Linked DNA regions of Homo sapiens: region 1 is linked to region 2. The links come from fine-mapping of genetic effects on gene expression. Tissue or cell type: cerebellum. Region 2 holds a variant in brackets; the other region holds the start of a gene. All regions are shown on one strand. Distances are between the middles of the regions.

Region 1 (5,000 bases), 870 kb after region 2:
CACACACATACACACACACACACACACACACACACACACACACACACCCTTGCTGTTGGACCTCTCCCTCGCGAGGCTCCGGCTTCAGGACCACGGAGAGCTCTGGAGCAACAGCCCGCCCGCGAAGGGATGGGGCCCGAAGAGGCCCACCACCGTGTTTACCAGTTCCCTGCTCCTATTCCTCCAGGAAGCCCTCCCAGATATCTGCCCCGATCAAGCTCTGCTTCCCTCCAGGCTCACTTTGGGTCACTCATAGCATTTAAGAGGGGAAGGTTTAATTAAAATGATAATGATTGTAATAAAAGTCAACAACAAACATTTATTGAATGCTCACTACCGACCGGCATTAACTGATTTAATTCTCACAATGAATCCGTCGCTCACCCTAGCCTGGGAACTTCTGGAGGGTGGGGCCAGGTTGCTGAGCCAGGGACCTAGCGCCTACCCTGGGCCTGGCACCTAGCAGTTCTCCGGCATCCAGGTCTGGACCAATTCGAAAGCTCCCCAGCCCTCGGATGCTCCAACTTCCGTTTTTCTGGCACCTGACCCTGGCTCTCGTCGGTCCATCCAAAGGCTACGCCGTCCATCCGCCCTTCTTCCCCCAGTTTCCTGGTGACCCCCAGCTCAAGAGAGAATACCCGCAGGGCCCAAGCCCTAGCGTTCCCTCTCCCTGATCCTCCCGGCCCCATGCTCAGGTCCGGGAGGCCAGAGACCCCAGTTCAAATCCCAGCTCTACCTCCACCTTGCTCTGTGAAGCAGGCACATCGGTGTGTGCTGTGGAGCTCAGGAGTGCCCCTTGAATCTACTGGCGCTTGAGGGTAGGGGTTTACGGCTCCAACTGCCCGACGAACTAAATCCTTAACCAAATCCTTCCCCCCAGCAAGCATGAGGGGAGCGCTCGGAAAAAAAGCTCCTTCCAGCTTTAAGCTGTGTGGCCGCAGGCGACTCGCGGAACCTCTCCCGGGGCCCGGCACACAGTAGGTGCTCTATAATTACTACCGACTGAGTGGATGGATGAATGGACCAACACGGAACGGAGCTCCAGTTCTTTTCACAAAACAGAATGAGGGGCCTGGGTTAGATTCATCCCAGAGGTTCCTTCGCGTTTAAGCGTCCATGCGGTAGCTTTAGCCAACTTCCCCTCTCAGAACCTCTCTCCCTTTCTGTAGAAGAGGAGCCGGGACTGGACCCGGGCGATCCCTTCCGAGTCTCACGGACCACGCCGGCCAGCCCCGACCGAGTCGCCCCAGCTCTGGGAACCTCTTGCATGATGAGGTGGGGGAGGGGCCGCGCCGTGGCTCTCCCCAGCCTGGCGGCCGCTGCCCCAACACCGGGGCCCGGGCATGGCCCTCGGGCGCCCCATGCCCTGGGTCCTCCCGGGGCCCGCCCCCCTCGTCTGGCCCGCGCGCGCCCCGAGGGTACCTGGCCATTGTCCCGGCCGAGGGGCAGGTCGCGGGGCGCGGGGCGGCGGATGCGCAGCGTCGGCGGCCGCTCGTCGCGCTCTCCGGGAGAGCTGACCGCGGAGCCCGAGGGCTCGCTCACGTCGCTGGCCGTGTCCTCGCTGCCTCCCGGCCCTGGCAGCCCGACCGCGTCGGGCCGGCCAGCGCTGCGCGGCGTGCGCGCCGAGCCGCGGCGGCCCACACTGTAGGCGTCGAAGTCGATGGTCTTGTTCTCGTAGGCGCCCTCCACCGCGGCGAACATGCCGCCGTACTTCTGGCGCGGGGTCTGCGCCGCGCTGCCCGGCCGCGCCAGGTACACGGGCAGGTCGTCCTCGGTGTTCCACGCGCGCCGCCGGTCCGCCATACCCGTCCAAGGCCGGCCACCCACCGCGCTCCCGCCTGCCCGCCCGCGGCCCTGGGCACCGCCGTGCGCCGCGCTCCGCGCCTCGGTGCGGGCCTGCGGCGGCCCGGGCGCGACTGCGGCCCAGGGAGGGGAGGGGCGGGGCGTGGCGCGCGCCGGGGCGGGGCCGGGGCGGGGCCTCTGGGCGGCTGCGGGCTAGCGGCGCGGCCAGCTACAAAGGACCAGGAGGCGGGGATCGCGGCTGGGGCGGGGAGGGACGGTGACGCTCCCGAGCCGCAGCGCGGAGGGCGGGCCGCGGCACCGCAGTGCCCTCGCCGCACCCCCCACTCTCCGCCCCCAGGCGGAGCGCAGGGCGCGAGGAGAGCGCGGGGCAGGAGCCGTGTGCGTACACTCGCGCGCCCACACGCTCTGGAGGCACACGCGGGTTCATACCTGCACACCAGACAATTACGCCAAACACATGAGAGATGCACAGACATGCTGGCACACACACGAGAGTCAATCACACATGCTCTCCAGAGATACACAGGGGCTCGATCATGCACACCATACTCAATGTTGCACACACATACACATATATGCTTGTGCACATTCCGAGTTCATTACAAACACACAACAGAAATCCTCATTGTCTCACAACCCCACTCACACACAGTATCACACCAAGATTAATTGCACAACTGGAGAGGCACATGCGTTGGACACACCGTTCATTCCGTCAGTTTTATTTTGCTGAGCGCCCACTAGTGCCTAGCACTGTTGTAGGAGCTGGGAACAGAGCCATGGACAAAAGAGACCAAGTGCCTGCCCTCCAGGAGCTGACCTGCTAAGGAGGGGAATTGGATACAAAAGCACCCATATGGTGGGCCAAGAGGTGGTAAGGGCCAGGAAAGGTGGTGCAGCAGCCAAGAGGGACATGCTAGAGGCACACTCCGACAGACACATAAGAGAAGCACATTCTTGCATGAGAATCAGCGACACACACATACACGTGCACGCCAATGACACCACACAACACACCAATATCAAAGGCAAGCTCAGGGCGATTCCACACATGTGCATCATAAACTGGCAACAGGATGCCCACACACAAGTCCACACCAGTAATAAAGGAAGTCAAAAGCTTAAATAAAAACGCTCCAGAGAAAGACACACAGAGACAGAGATGACCACACACACACAGCTGGCAGTCAACCAGACAGACAGATATTCCCTCATTCGAGGGGCACAGTCCACTTTTGTTGCTCCTGGAGCTTGCAGTCTGGGCGTTCTGGGGTTTCTCTGTCGTGGAGGTCGCTCTGCTGGGGCTCTCCTCTAAGGCCAGGCACCACCTGCCTCCTATAGACACCTTCCCTTATTTCTCCACGATTATCAGGCAGAGGATCCTGCAAGTCCCTGGGGACCCTACAGTCCCAGCTGCACTTCCTGGAGAGGCAGAATCGCCAGCTGCCGACCCCCTCCTCGAGCCAGTCTAGACAAGCAAAGTCAGGACTGGGTGGGGACTGCAGAGGGGAGCATCAGTGCTTCTTGCAATGTCCCCCCACCCATAGCCTTCCATGCTGGGAGCTGTCCCTTCAACCCCGGGCCCTGCCAGCTGCAAGCCAGAGCTCCCGCAGCGTGACCAAGCTCCAGGAATACCAGACAGACAGATGGATTCATGTTCTTGTTTTATGACTCTTGGGCCCCATGGACTGAGGATCCTGGGGCCGTCGGATCCGTGGCCTCAGCTGACACCTCCCTGAAGCTACTGTCTTTCAACCCTGCAACAAGGGGTCTGTGCAGCAGGTAGGTATTTTTACCGGCCCCCTCTTGGAAGAGGAAACAGGAGGGGAGATGTGAAATGGCTCCCTCAGGGCCTCAATCTCAAGGAGGTTCAGCCAGGCCTAGAGCGTGGGCTCATCCACTCGGTGGGCATTTAGCAAGTTATTTTTCTGTGCTTGAGAGAGAGGCTAGTGTGGGGACACAGATGAGTATTTCTAAGTCTCTGTCTTCAACAAGTGTTTACTCTCATGGGGGAGAGAGTGCTGAATGCGAGAACAGAAAGTTCCACACACAGCCTCCATCTACCTTCCACCCACCGCAGCTGCATCCTGGCTCCTCTCTCCTTGTGTCCCTGGGTCCACTGTGCAGATTTGCCACAGACACTCCTCTTGAGGCCCATCAGCCTCCAGGCTATCTTGCAAGTGTTTTCGATTTTTCAATGAAAATTTTTCTCTGTCCTGTGAAATACTATTCCCAGCCCATTCCAGGCAAGAACAATTCATGTCGAAAACCACATAGAAATTTCTTCTAAAACCCCACAAATGTTCAGGGTGACATAACCCAGAGAAATATCAGAAAACTCAAAAGTCTGAGTTAGGTGGAACTTTGGAGGCCAGGCCTCCTACTGCATGCTTGAATCTGCTCTCAACATCTTGAGGACACAGTCTCTCAGGCTTTGTTGGTGGTGATGGAAATCTTACTGCTTCTAAAGAAAACCCTTTCCATTGTGAGAAAGGGCTGGGCAGTTGCCAAGACTAGAGGGAGTGACGCAAGGAAGGAGCTGAGAAAGTGCTGTCTTTATGCAGAAGCAGGAAAGGATCTTCATAGCTTCTGCTTATAGAAAGTTTACTACGTGCCCGGACCATGGTAAGCACCTAACAGATAGTAACTCTTTTATGCCTCGCAGCAACCTTGAAACTGCCATTTTAGCCTCATTTTACAGATGAGAAAACTGAGGTTCAGAGACATAAATAACCTGTCCAGGGTCACAGCTGGCAAGTAAGACTTCGAGGTTTAAACAGAGTAGTCTGGTGCCAGAGTCCACATCGAAACAACTACCCTTTCCTCTCCCCAAGAGCCTGACTGAGGTGGTCCCACTGGGAGATAAGAGATAAAGGGACCTAGTTTAGGCAGAAGAGTCTAGGTGGTTGAGTTAGAATCCTGTTTTGCATGCAGTCTTGGGCAACTAATCATTCGACATTCATCTAACACACCTTTGTGGCGCCCACTGCGTGTCACTGACTTTATATCACTTCCTCTCACTCTTTTCTCCCCATGCAGAGGAGGCGATCGGACCCTCCTGAAACTGCATACTGTGTATAAGGGTCCTTGCACACACAGTTCATTTCCGTGCATCATGCTCTGCCTTATACACTGCTGGCTCCCTCAGGCAGCCCCACGTGGCGAACCAGGCCACTTCCATCTTCAGGCTGGAGCGC
Region 2 (6,935 bases):
GTGGCTGGGGTGTGGTCCTGGGGTGTAGCCCCTGCATCAATGCGCAGCTCATGGAGACAAAGGGCCTTGTCCTGAACCCCATCACCCAACAAGGCAACCATGGTTGAGAAAGGGCTTTGTGAACTGAAAGCATCTGCGAAACATCTCTGCTCCTCTTCCTTGTCACCATCTCCTCCCAACTCTCCTCTTTGAAAAGCTCAGAAAGTCTTGGCTGATAGCAAGTAGAAAATAGACTTTCAATGGCATCCACTTACTCTCCTGCAGAACGAGTTCATGATGGTGTACAGCTTCCGTGCTTTGTCCTTCAAGGAATCTACCTGGGCCACTTTCCAACACGGGGGCGAGGCCACAAAGTCCCGCAGCTTGTCCAGCACACAGTAATTCTGGGAGTGGGCAATGGGGAGGGGGCTTGTGGGAGAAGTCAGTAGCAAGAGGAACAGGGACTGAGCTGCATAAGATCTCTCCCTGACTCTGTGCCACACAGCCAGCAGCAGAGGTTCAGACCTGAGTCCCTCAGCCCAAGACCTCCCTCCCCCAGGGAGAACCCTCTTACGTGTATGTCCAGGTACAGCCTGGGCAGGTATCTCACACATGGCTCCTGTGGAAAGGGATAAGGGGTTCTGGGATGCCCACAGGGGCATACCTGGTCACAAAAGTCTCCCTAGTGGCCCTCTCAACAGCCAGACCAGCCCAGATCCCTGGGGCCCTCCCTGATGCTACGACATGCACAGTACTTTCTTGTGTCATACGTCACACTCCTCCAGAAATGGGCGACTGCGCTTCCGGAATTAGACTTTTAGAATACAACTTTTATATCATTTGCTATGAACCAGGGAGCTGTTTTATATGCATACCCATTCAGAAATATACATACACGTATATACATAAAAGCAGTCCTATAACTGTAATATAGAAATAGTGATATATAATACAGTAATACAAGTATACATACAGAGTATATATGTACATCTATAAAACAGTTCTATAACTATTTAGTTATATAACAGTTGTATAAGTTAGTTATATAGTAACTTATATAATAATATACTTATATAATAACTTATATAAGTATATTAGCTATATAACAGTTGTATAACTGCATGTAATTATAGACATTATATATACTTACATAAGTACGATATATGTAATAATACCTATTGTTCTATAGGCATTCTATAGCTAATATGTAGTTGTATATAGTGTATAATATAGTAATATCGAAGTGCATAAATTTGCATACTTTTATATTTCTATATTGGGCTTCCGTTTTTGCGCAGGGCTGAAGGGCAAAAGCCCTCGTGCTCTGCCCTCTCAGTAATCCCCGTGTGACCATGGGCAAGTGCCTTCCTTCAGTCCTCAGTTGTGAAATTAGAGATTTAGAATGCATAATCTTTCCACTTTCTTCCCGCTCTGTGGTTCAGAGCCTCTGAACTTTTTAAACCTTTTAAAATCAGATTCCTTTAAAAGATGATTGCTGTCTATATTCGATAACAAGAAACTTGTGGGTAAATTGTGGTGAAACTGTACAACAAAATGTTAAAACAAAAATGAACTTATTTGATAGTGTCATTAAAAAGTAAGTTGCAAAACTGCTTGTGCTGTTTGACCCAAATTTTGTTTACACACACACACACACACAACACACACGTATTTGAATACCTATATGTAGACAGAAAGCTGAAATATGATCCTCCACAATGCTACGGCAGCAGCTACCTCTAGGTGGTAGAATTACAAGCAAGATTTTTTTTCTTCTTTGTACTTTATTTTCCAACTGTTCTACAAAGTACAATACTTTTATAATTAGGGAAAAAATACATGTTATTTAACTTTTAAAAAGAAAATACCAAGAAGGTGTTAGCTAGGCTTTTGTAAACCCCAACATCTGAGAAACATTATGTTTTGTTTGAAGCATTTGCAAGTGATTAAAAGACACTTTGAAACTTTACAAAAGCTTTTAATGAAGTTTAATGCATTTTGTTTCGACGGAGAAGCAGGCAGAGGCCTGGGTTCTAGTCCCCAAAAGCCCTCCCGGGTCTTCCCCTCTCTGAGTCCCCAGATCTGCCTCTGAAGATCGTGCTCACATCAGCTGGCATCTGTTGAGTACTTGTTCCTGTAGGCTTGGCTCTGTGAGCCCTGCCTGTGTTCACACCTGCCTTTGATCGTCAAAGCCACTCTAAAGGGAGGGGTGCTACTGTCATCCCATTTTACAGACAAGAAAACTGAAAGGCAGAGGCTGAGAAATTTGCCCGGGTCCCTCAGCAGATGAGGGGCGGAGGCCAGTTCTGTGAGCCACCTCTTAGGGCACACTCCTCACTAGGCTAACAAAAGCAATACACAAGCTTCATTCCTCCGTCCTCCTTAACTCTGATGGGGAGCTGTTTTTCTCCCCATCCTCCCACTCCTTTTTTTTTCTTTTTTCTTTTTTTTTTTTTTTTTTTTTTTTACATTTTACAACAGATCCTTTGATATTTGCTAGTAAGTCACAAAAATTGTGTTGTCTTTACTTTTTCTTGTGTTTTGAAGAAAGCAAACCATTGGTATCATATTTAAAAGGAGATGAATAAAACACAAATACTCCTGAGATTTACATTTACTAGAAAAGAAAAATATCCTTTTCTCTCTCTCTCTCTTTTTTTTTTCGTGTAAAGGCAAGGGTTTAAGAACTGGGTCTGCCATGCACCCCTGTCCTGAGCGGGCGGGGGACTCACCGAGGGCTCCGAGACCTGCAGGAGGTTGAAGTCGCGGGTGATCTCCTGGCTCAGGGCCCGCATGCGGGAGTAGCAGGTCGGGGGAGTGGGCCGCGCGGCGGGGGCTCCCGCCAGGAGCAGCAGCAGCACGGGCAGAGGCCCAGGCGTCCTCATGGTGCCAGGCGCTGGTGCAGCCTCGCCGACCGCCCCTTTATGCAGGCTGGGGGTGGTCCAGGGCGGCTCCACGCCTCCACTTCCTGTGGGGCCAGCGCAGGCTGCGGTCCATCCAGGGTGGCAGAGAGGAAGCCAGCACGCCCACCGGGCAGGGTCGGGACAGGAATCCTCTCAGACACGAAAGCCCCAGGTTAAGAGGAGGGGCTGCCTGGAGGAGGGGGTGACAGAGGGTGGCTTTGCCTCCCCCACACTTTCAGCAAGAAATTTCTTTCTGCACAGGGACTTTTCCTGAAAAGGCAGGAACAGCAGATGGAGAGGGGTGGGGGATAAGAGGAGGACAGAGATGGAAGGAGGGGAGGGTCAGAGGAGAGGAGTGGGCAGTCAGGCCTGGGTTTGGATGGCACGGTTTGTCAAAATGGATATAGTGCCAGGAGGGAAAGGGACTAGCAGGGGATGACTGAGCATCCCTCCCTCCAGGCAGCCCGCAGTGGAGCAGGGA[T/C]GCAGAGCTGCGGTCAGGCCACCGGTGTCCTCGTCCATCAATCGCTAACCAGGTAGGTGAGCCTTGGGCCAGGGCCCCCAGCCTCTCAGAAGCCGTGTGTGTCTCTCGGTCCGGAGGATGGGCTCACTGAGCGGCCGTATGTGTGGGGAGTGTGAGTACCCCCACCCTCTTCTACCTCAAGCTCCCAGCACAGGCCCCGAGGGAGAGCAGACCCTCAGGAAGGGTTAGTTTTCAAGAAGTGCATCTCCCTCAGGGCTAACTTCCCAAGACAGTGGCAGGTAAAGGTCTAGGCTCTCCACTTAGACGCCGTGGGTGCAAAGCAGGGTCACCGCCTTCTGGCTTTGACCTTGGGCAAGTTTCTTCAGTGTTTCCTCCATCTCCTTATCTGTGAGATGAGGCTGGTGAGAGTGGCTCACTCAAAAGGCCATAGTGAGGAATCAACAGGATATAGCATGACTGAGCAAGCCTCATGCCAGGCCCATTGTGTGTTTCCAAGTGATCGGAGCTAATAGCACTGTCTCTGTTAAATCCAGCAATTGTCTCTGTGAGGTAGGTGCCACAGAAAAGAGTCCCATTTTCCAGGTGGGAAAACTGAGGCTCAAGAGTTCCAGCAACTTGCTGGAGGTCACAAAGCTGGAGGCACATGGGTTGGGATGAGACTTCAGGCCCTGTCCTCCTGCCATTCTTCCATCCCACAGGGCAGGATGGGTGAGGAGCAGGACTCTTGCAGGCAGAGATGAGTTGGGGTCCTCAGGCTGCCCAAGATCAGGCAACAAGCAAGAAGGAACTGTCAAAAGGGAGAAGATTCTTCCTTAACACTGAACATGACTTACATACCAGCAGCCACCAGGCCAGCTGCCATTGGGAACGCTATGACCCTCACAGCCAGCCAATGAAGTGAATGGGGTTATTCCCAATTCCCAGGCGAGGAAACTGAGGGCCTCGGGGGATGTGAAGCTGGGAAGAGCAGTGGAGCCCTGGAGCTATGTCTGGACTTTCCTGCCTCCAAAGCTTCCTCCAACAAAGGAGGAAAGGGGAGCATCCTGGGCAAGCTCCACATTCCCAGAACAAAACAACCAAAGATGCAGCCCACAGGGATGGGTGAACCAGAGCATGGCATCCTGGACACAGGGCTGGACTGAGGATCAACCACAGGGATGAAGCCCGGCTCCAGCTTGTCCCCACTGTATTTGCCAGGAGAAATCCCTTCTCGACCTGGCCTCCATTCCCTGTCTGTAAACAGGATAGCATCACGCTGGGCGATGTCTGAGGTTCCTTCCAGCCCCAGTGTTTTATTTATCTAGTTTCTGGTGGTAAAAGCCCTGGGCAGGGACTGTAAGCTGTGCCTTCCTGTTTTGTAGGTGAGAATGTGTTCTCTAAACACCTTTAGCAAGATGACATAGGGACCGCGGCCTTCGGGCAGAACTGTGTGTGCTTGGAGGTGGCAAGTGGAGGCACAGATGTGTTTTCTTCTGGGTGAAGGAGTCTCCACACTCCCTCCATGATAGTGCCTGGGGCATGGGCCTCCCTGGCAGAATAGCTGGCCCCAGCTGGGGACTCTAGGTCTGCTTTAAAATGCTCTAGGGCTTCTGGATGTGCTCAAGGAATGGGCTTAAATTCAGAGCAGGGAAGAAAAACAAGCCCATGGACCAAACAAGTCCTGCACCATTAGATCAAGGAGACATTGCTGTGCTGGAAAACAGGAGTCATTTGTGAGATAAATGTACTGCTGGGAGACTTGACCTTGTTCCACCCGCAATACCGTGTGTGGTTATTCATGGGACTTCTTGGGTAAATCAGCTGAGCTCAGAGCTGCAAAGAGGCTTATAGGCCTTCCCATTGAGCATGAGAATGAATGAGTAAGTGGCTGTAGCCATAAGCTGTCACTGGTACCAACTGAGATATGGTGGATGCTGGGCCCCTGAGGAGTCACAGTCAGTGGGGAGACAAGGAATGAGGCTGTTGTGCACTGGGCCAGGTGCAAGAGAATCGCCACCTCTCACTCTACCAAGCCAGGAGTGGGATGAATGGGAAGAACACCAGAGGAGAGGGTGCCTCGTGCTGATTCCCAGGGCAGGTGGAGACAAGGAGAAACAGCCTGTGCCGAGCCCAACACACACAAGCTTGCCTGCCGAGCCCAATGCATGCCAGTGTGCATCCGGGAATTCTATCTGCTTTCTGGCCCTCTCCAGGGTTCCTCCGCATCCTATGCATGATACATTGACTTGCCTCCTGGCATCTGTCTCCTTTAATGACCATGCCCTTCTCTAGGAGAGAAAGACAGTCTTTCTCATCTGTTTCTCGGCACCCAGCACGCAGCCAGGTAGAGCGGATGACCAGTAAGGTGTGGCTGAATGGACTTGGTGACTACTCGTGTTACTCAGAGATTAAGGCACAAGCCCACTAAGAAACCTACGCAGGACAGCCTGACGTGGCTCCCCACCAGGGGCTCCCTATGAGACGCCGCACTGGATACAGGCTGGTGGACCCCCGCACGTGTGTTCTGTTCTCAAATGTCTCCTTCACCACGAATCACCTGCATCCTCCCACCAGCTCTTTCTCTGCCCCCTTCTGAGGCTCCTTCAGCAGTTGGCTGCTCCGAATATTAAAAATCCAGGCAGGAATTTGCCCACAAATCAGGTAAGCCCTTGTCTCCGCCAAAAGGTCTCTTCTGGTTTTCTTAATGTCTTACATCGGGCACGGACCCCATCATGCAGGAGAGCTGAAGAGTCAGAGTTAACGAGCAGGTGAACATCTCTGAGGTAGATATCGGCCATTGCCTTTGGATGGGTTCTTCATTTGCCAGATGCATGTCTATCTATTTATCGAGAGTCTGTTGTGTGCCAGGCACTGAGATGGGTGAAAAGACAGTGAATGACAGAGTTGCTATCCTCTCGGAGGAGATTGATGAGGGCAGCTGACACTCTGGGTGAGTGGTGTGATGGCAGAAATCCTAGTGTTTCTGGAGCCCCTAACCCATCACTGGCAGCTGCTCCCTATCAGGTGAGAGCTGAGAGGTGACGAATGCAGTGGGGAAGCGGGGTAGGTATGAAGGCATGTGTGTGTGTGTGTGTGTATATGTGTGTGTTTGTGTGTGTCTCTGTGAAAGACAGAGAGTGAGGGAGATTGTAAGATATTGTGCTGCTGGCTTTGAAGATGGGAGAAGAGGCCACAAGCCAAGGAATTCAGGAGGCCTCTAGAATGCAAAGAAAGATTCCTGCCTAGGGCCTCCAAAACGGGCCCAGTTAGACCCCTTCTGAGCCCGGAATTGTAAGATCATAAATTCGTGATGCTTGGAGTCCCTCGGTTTGTGGTGATTTGTTACAGCAGCCACAGGAAACAAGCATACTGTCTCTCTGGGGTTTGGTAGAATAACAGAAATTAATGTGGGAACCTAGAAATTATCCAGATCTACCTGCCTGCTGCTTATCCTTCCTTTACAGTCTCCCTGTCAAGTGCTTGTCCAGAGTCTGCTTGCATACGTCCCTGGACAGGGAGCTCTTTGCCTCTTACAACTTCCTTCCAGTCTCTGGGCAGCTCCAAATTCTTCCCAGGGTGGAGATGAGATGCGA

What was found. PIP is the estimated chance that this variant, and not a neighbour inherited with it, causes the effect.
Region 1: CRMP1 starts here. The variant in region 2 is fine-mapped to the expression of CRMP1 in cerebellum (GTEx, PIP above 0.99).

Annotation. Positions count from the first base shown.
Region 1 is chr4:5,891,167-5,896,166 of GRCh38, forward strand. It overlaps CRMP1 (collapsin response mediator protein 1), which reads right to left and starts at 1,920. Exons shown (of 14, transcript NM_001014809.3): 1 at 1,423-1,920. The coding sequence starts at 1,803. RefSeq lists an enhancer at 1-525.
Region 2 is chr4:5,016,582-5,023,516 of GRCh38, forward strand. CYTL1 (cytokine like 1) reads right to left here and starts at 2,877. Exons shown (of 4, transcript NM_018659.3): 1 at 2,712-2,877; 2 at 554-598; 3 at 255-383. The coding sequence starts at 2,864. It also overlaps a transcript of STK32B not described here. The variant T/C (reference allele first, on the strand shown) is at 3,364.